Homo sapiens: one gene and its partner. The protein of the gene in region 2 interacts with the protein of the main gene of each other region in a pairwise test. Each region holds a gene or a part of one and is shown on either strand. Other genes may lie near its edges.

The links. The genes of interacting proteins can lie anywhere in the genome.
Region 1: the proteins of CFAP206 (region 2) and ANKRD55 interact in binary tests that used the Homo sapiens proteins (3 or more experiments, as listed by UniProt).

What each region holds. Positions count from the first base shown.
Region 1 is NC_000005.10:56,226,707-56,230,457, forward strand, and holds part of ANKRD55 (ankyrin repeat domain-containing protein 55), read right to left. Parts: intron 1-3,751.
Region 2 is NC_000006.12:87,410,869-87,414,619, reverse strand, and holds part of CFAP206 (cilia- and flagella-associated protein 206), read right to left. Parts: intron 811-3,751; coding exon 720-810; intron 1-719. UniProt on the Homo sapiens protein: Essential for sperm motility and is involved in the regulation of the beating frequency of motile cilia on the epithelial cells of the respiratory tract. Required for the establishment of radial spokes in sperm flagella.

The DNA.
Region 1 (3,751 bases), on a different chromosome or scaffold from region 2:
CATTTATGCAGCCAACAGACACATGAAAAAATGCTCATCATCACTGGCCATCAAAGAAATGCAAATCAAAACCACAATGAGATACCATCTCACACCAGTTAGAATGGCAATCATTAACAAGTCAGGAAACAACAGGTGCTGGAGAGGATGTGGAGAAACAGGAACACTTTTACACTGTTGGTGGGACTGTAAACTAGTTCAACCATTGTGGAAGACAGTGTGGTGATTTGTCAAGGATCTAGAACTAGAAATACCATTTGACCCAGCCATCCCATTACTGGGTATATACCCAAAGGATTATAAATCATGCTGATATAAAGACACATGCACATGTATGTTTATTGCAGCACTATTCACAATAGCAAAGACTTGGAACCAACCCAAATGTCCATCGATGATAGACTGGATTAAGAAAATGTGGCATGTATACACCATGGAATACTATGCAGCCATAAAAAAGGATGAGTTCATGTCCTTTGTAAGGACATGGATGAAGCTGGAAGCCATCATTCTGAGCAAACTATCGCAAGGACAGAAAACCAAACACCACATGTTCTCACTCATAGGTGAGAACTGAACATTGAGAACACTTGGACACAGGGTGGGGAACACCACACACCCGGGCCTGTTGTGGGGTAGGGGGAGGGGGGAGGGATAGCATTAGGAGATATACCTAATGTAAATGACGAGTTAATGGGTGCAGCATACCAATATGGCACATGTATACATATGTAACAAACCTACACACTGTGCATATGTACCCTAGAACTTAAAGTATAAAAGAAAACAAAAAACAAACAAAAAAACCCCTGCACATCTGTGCGTGGGAACTTTAAAAATCCACAACACAATGGAATAAGAGCTTGATTGTGAAAATAAATGTTTCATTAATTTGATTTTCCATTGATGTCTTTTTTTTTTTTTATTAAACCTTATTGCTGGCCAAGGAAAAGACATTCTGCAGTAGAAAGAACACCGGTTTTGAAGTGAAACAGATTTAGCTTGGAATCCTAGCTTTGCTGTTTTACTTTGTGACAACATTGGGTAGGTCATAACCTTTTTGAATTTCCTCATCGATAAAAGGGGGTCATATGTGAAGCTGATATGAGGATTATATGAGCTAGTCTGTGTGCAGTCCTTAGGACAGAGCCTGGATCTGCTAAATGCTCCATAAACATTCGCTCTTGTCAATATGTATCCATGTAAAGCCCTGCACAGAGTCTGCACCAAACAGATGCTCCCCGCTTCCCCCACCTCTTACTTGCCAATTTTTCTCCTAGCTTAAATGAGAATGGATTTTACCAAAAACCGAGTCACAGTGTTGCGTGCTTTCTGGGATCTGACCTCTTCTCACTCCCTGCAATGGGTTGAATGGTGGCCCTAAAGACATGTTCTAACCTCTAATCCTGGAACCTGTGGCTATTCCCTTACATGGCAAGAGAGTGACTATGACCTTATATCTGAAAGGATGTGACTAAGCCAAGGACTTTGAGAGGAGGAGTTTATCCTGGATTATCTGGGTGGTCCCTAAATGCAATCACATGCATCCTTAAAGGAGAGGCAGAGGAACTTTGAAACAGGTACACAGAGGAGCGATGCACACAGACGAGGCCAAGTGAAGATGGTGGCAGAGACCAGAGTGATGAGGCCACAGCAGCCAAGGCTGGAAGGACCAGGGAAGATTCTTTCCTAAAGGTTCTAGGAGAAGGCCCCCAGCTGACTTTTTTTTTTTTTTTTGAGGTGGAGTCTTACTCTGTCACCCAGGCTGGAGTGCAGTGGCGCGATCTTGGCTCACTGCAACCTCCGCCTCCTGAGTTCAAGCAATTCTTGTGCCTCAGCCTCCCAAGTAGCTGGGACTACAGGCGCATGACACCACATCCAGCTAATTTTTTATTTTTACTAGAGACAGGGTTTCACCATGTTGGCCAGGCTGGTCTCAAACTGTTGATCCTAGGTGATCTGCCCACCTTGGCTTCCCAAGCTGCTGGGATTACAGGCATGAGCCACTGCACCCGGCCTGCTGCTGACATCTTGATTTCAGACTTTTGGGCACCAGAACTGTGAGAGGATAAATTTCTGTTGTTTTAAGCTACCCAGCTTGTGATAATTGGTTACAGCAGCACAGAGACAATCACACACTCTATTAATCTGGGCTAGAAGACAAAGCCCTTCCTCTCTTTTTCCAGCAACTCGACAAGAGAAACGACCTGTGCAAGAGGGTGGACCACAGCCCACACAGGTGTGTGCAAACACACCGCTCAGCCTCGTCAGGCATATTTCCTCAGAGACCCTGGCACGGCCAGGCCCTCCTCACCCCCAACAATACAGAAGAGTGGGTGAGGCCCTGAGGCTACCCATCCCCCCACCTCCCGCCGACCCCTCGCCTGTTTTTTTTTTTTTTTTTCCCTGTTTTCTCTCTCAGGTTTGGGATTCTTTCAGGCGCAGCAAAACTTTTCTTTCCACAAGTCGTGACAAAGCTTACAATGCAAGTATCTTCAGTTACATAATATGTAGACTTTAGCAGGAACCTCTGTGTTCTGTAGTAAATGGCTTTACTACAGGTCGCTTCCTGCGTGTGTGGGCTTTGAGAGGGAACACAGCTGGAAAGAACACGTGGGACCAGAAGAGATGTTGCTATGGTGAAAGCTGAAGGCACAAAAGAGAGTCGAGAGTTCTGAAGACCCAGGCTTCCTCCCTCACAGTTTTGCAAAGCCAGCCAGAGACCATGCCCCTGGCCAGTCAAATGATCTGATCGTTGGGCCTTCCAGCAGCTCTGTGAATATGTAATATAGTATTATCCACATTTACAGTCAAGGAGACAGAAGCCAGTGGAGATCAACTAGTTTGTGCAAGTTCATGTAACTAGGAAGAGGGCAGAGACAGGACTTGAGCAAATGACCATCTGTCACCAAGACCCTGGCATGCCTCGTTGCCTCTAGCTAAAGAGAAATATAGGAAAATGCATGTGGAGGGGTTCAGTCTTACCAAACCCACCTCGTTGGAGCCCTGAAGGTCCTTCTGCATCATATTCTTCCACCATTCTCTGGGCAGCCATGAGCCAGAGTCAGTGCTAGGCCAGGGATTGGCCATGTGCAGGAAGCTTCCTATTGCCCTGTTGTATGGATGGAGAACACCTGGGCCTCAGTCCCCTCTGTTGCTATTTAGTGGGGTGTTGTTATTATTATTAGGAAGGACCCAACTTTGAACCTCTCTGTGCTTTAGTTCCCTCATCTGAAATGTGGAAGAGGGGTAGGTTGGATGACTGGTTCTGCATCTTTGCTGTCCATGAGAACTTCCCAAGGAGTGTTGGTTGGGCCAACCACTGCAGTTAAACTGGAATCTCCCTGGGTGGGATGCAAGCATCAGCATTTTCAGAATTTCTTCAGATGATTCTTTTTTCTTTTTTTTGAGACAGAGTCTTGCTCTGTCGCCAGGTTGGAGTGCAGTGGCCTGATCTCAGCTCACCGCAACCTCCACCTCCCAGGTTCAAGCGATTTCCTGCCTCAGCCTCCCGAGTAGCTGGGACTACAGGCGTGTGTCACCATGCCCAGCTAATTTTTGTATTTTCAGTAGAGACAGGCTTTCACCCTGTTGGCCAGGATGGTCTCGATCTCTTGACCTTGGGATCTGCCCACCTCGGCCTCCCAAAGCACTGGGATTACAGGCGTGAGCCTTGCGCCCGGCCCAGATGATTCTTAAGTACAGCCAATGTGAGAACCAACAGGTTACTTGATTGCTAAGATTCTTCCAG
Region 2 (3,751 bases):
ATTAAATTATTTACATAATGAGCCAGGCATGGTGGCTCACACTGATAATCCCAGCACTTTGGGAGTCTAAGGCGTAGACAGATCGCTTGAGGCCTGGATTTCGACACCAGCCTGGGCAACATGGTGAAATCCCGTCTCTACTAAGAATACAAAAATTAGCTGGGCATGGTGGCACACACCTATAGTCCCAGCTACTCGGGTGGCTGAGGTGGGAGAATTGCTTCAACATGGGAGTCAGAGGTTGCAGTGATCTGTGGATCGTGCCACTGCACTCCTGCCTGGGTGACAGAGCAAGACTCTGTCTCAAAAAAAATTTACATATTGAAACGTTTTCTAAACTTAAACTCCCCATCGTTCATTTTTGAATAGTTACATAATTTAGGTAATTATAATGAGATAATAACATAAACCAGGAACAAGAAAATCTATAAATTAAAAACTTTTAACTTCAATGGGCTGAATTCCTAATTATTATGTATTAGTGCCACTGGAAACAATAATTATGAGCACAATAATTGGAATTCACTTTTAACACTCACAAAGGCCAATGGTTTTTTTTCATTTAGCATTTCTAACGTTGTATTCCTCAAAGTTGATTGCCAAAAATTAAATTGTTAAATTGATTAAACAATTAAATTCATTGTCAACCAAATGAAGCCCTTCTTAGCTGAAACACAGTATGAAATTTTTTAAGTATAAAAATAGGTAGTATACATTACCTCGATTCGTATAATTCATATCGAAGTAGACTTGCATCTTAATAGTGTCCAGGGATGGATTTTTAGTATCCAATAGCCGAGTCATACAAAGCTAGAAAAGAATGTCCCATGAATACTTCTAGTTATAGTTTTTGAGACAGTCAAGTATTTCCTAAAGTTATTTTCAAAAATAAAGGGAAAAGCAGTGGTTCCTGATATTGATTCACCAATAACCCCTTTTATTTTTTTTTTCTCCTTGAGGACTTCAGGCTTTATAGTTTATTTAACCAATAACTTTTTTTATTTTTATAGATTTAGGGGGTACAAGTGTCATTTTGTTACATGGATATATTGCGTGTAGTGGTGAAGCCTGGGCTTTTAGGGTAGCTAACACCTGAATAGTGGACATTGTACCCATTAAGTGATTTCTTATCCCTCGCTCCCCTCTCACCCTCCCAAGTCTTCAATGTCTACTGTTCCACTCTCTATGTCCCTGGGTACATATTATTGAGCTCCCACTTATAAGTGAGAACATGTGGTATTTTACTTTCTGAGTTATTTCACTTAAGATAGTAGCCTCCAGTTCCATCCATGTTGCCACAAGACATGATTTCATTATTTTTTATGGCTCAATAAAACTCCATTGTGTGTATGTGTGTATACATTTTCTTTATCCAATCATCTGTTGATGGACACTTAGGTTGATTCCATATCTTTACTACCAATAACATTTGTTAAGTAATAAGTTATTTCCCTTGAGTTAACCAATAATCATCATGCCAGGTGGCTAGTAGTCTAGTTGAAGGCAAGAAACCTGATGTTTTGGTTAGTTTGAGCAGTCTAAATGTGGGTAAATGTTCCACAAAGCTTATATTCCAGTCTAAAACTCTTCTAGAGTTCCTCATTACTATTTATTTGTGCCTTGAACAACACTCCTCATTTTATTTTATAAAAAGCTGCTGCAGCTGGTGCAGTGGCTCACACCCGTAATCCCAGCATTTTGGGAGGCAGAGGTGGGCAGATCACCCGATGTCAGGAGTTCGAGACCAGCCTGGTCAACATGGTGAAACCCGTCTCTACTAAAAATACAACAATTAGCCAGGCATGGTGGCACACACCTGTAGTCCCAGCTACTCGGGAGGCTGAGACAGGAGAATCGCTTGAGAACCCGGGAGGTGGACATGGCAATGAGCCAAGATCATGCCACCGCACCCCAGCTTGGGGGACAGAGCGAGACTCTGTCTCAAAAAATAAAATATAATTAAATTAAATTAAATTAAAATTAAAAAGCTGCTGCAACCACCCCCCTCTCTTCACAAAATTTCTCTGGTTCTACCCTTGATATTTCTTCTCCTGGTCTGTTTTCTCCTATGAGCCCCCACATAGATGGCTCATTCCCCTTCTCTGCCTTGCCTCTTTATATTGAATATCAACCTCAGTTTTTCTTTCCTTCTCTCATCTCTACTGGTCACCTCCCTCCCCCACTTCCTTCACTGCTCACTCTGTAGGCTGAATATACTGCAGCTGGCAGGCACTTGGCAGCATCACTCTCAACCCATCTCCCTGAGCACCAGCCCTGCTTTCCTGGGAGGAGGGAGGGGAGAATGCAAGACTGAGGATTGGACACTATGTCTTTGCAGAAGCCTGTGCACCTGGATCCCTCCACATACAGAAGTACTGTTCTAAAATGCACACTTAAAAAAATAGCTCATCCACATGATTTTTAGTTGAGAAAAAAATTGTCACTTGAATATAACATATGTTGTTAGTTTATGTACCTGTCGTACTAAAAGTATATTGGCTTGATTCTTTCCAACTTAGTTGAGTTGGGGAATTGGGGGGAATGGAAAACTCTTCTTGGGTCATGACAAGGAGAACAACTTATTTTCTGCCCCTCCTGGATTCTCTTCCACGGCTTTCCAATAAAATTTCTGACTGCCACAATCACTTCCCCTATTGCTAAGAACAAGCTTTATACCATCTTTTCTCTGCATCCTCACCAATATCTGTTATGTTTTTACTTTTTAAAGATATTCTAACTGGTGTAAGATTGTATCTCATTGTCAGAATAGAAAATCCAGACACAAAGCCACATACCTGCAGTCAGGTGATCTTTGACAAAGTCAACAGAAACATACACTGGAGAAATGACATCCTATTCAATAAATGGTGCTGGGAAAATTGGATTACCATATGCAGAAGAATGAAACCCATCCCAATGTCTCACCATATACAAAAATTAACAACTCAAGATTGATTAAAGACTTAAATGTAAGACCTGAAACTATAAAAATAACAGAAAAAAACCTAGGGGGCTGGGCATTGGCCTACGCAAAGAATTCATGACTTAAAAGTAAATGCAACAGAAATAGACAAATTGGATTTAAATAAACTAAAAAGCTTCTACACATCAAAATGAATAATCAACAGAGTGAAAAGACAGCCTGCAGAATGGGAGAAAATATGTACAAACTATGCATCTGACAAAGGACTAATATTCAGGATCTACGAGGAACTCAAACAACTCGACAACAACAAATAACCCCATTATAAAGTGGGCAAAGGCCATGAATAGATATTTTTCAAAAGAAGACATACAAATCGCCAAAAAGCATGAAAAAAATGCTCAACATCACTCAGCATTAGAGAAATGCAAATTAATTTAGTTCTATTTAACTTCACAGTATATGACGAACTAGTTAATGTTTGCAATGTAAGACATTAGTAACAAGGTTTCACTAAAATACTGTAGCAGATGCTGCTACCTGCCCAATTTCCCTGCCCTTCCTTCCTTACTAACAGAGCCTCAATTTGGATTGGGGCAAGGATTTATTCATCTAAGAAAGAAAAAAGAAGTGAAATGTCCCTGGGTCACTTACAATATCATTCTGGTCAATAAATGTTAAGTAGATGGGAGGGATTCTGGGAAAATTATTATTTTCTGGATAGAAGGTGATAGACCCAATTGGCACACATATTTTGCCCTTTGTCTTTCCCCCTTCTTTCTGCCTAGAGGCAGGGTAGCTATCTTTTGACCACCAGATGACCATATT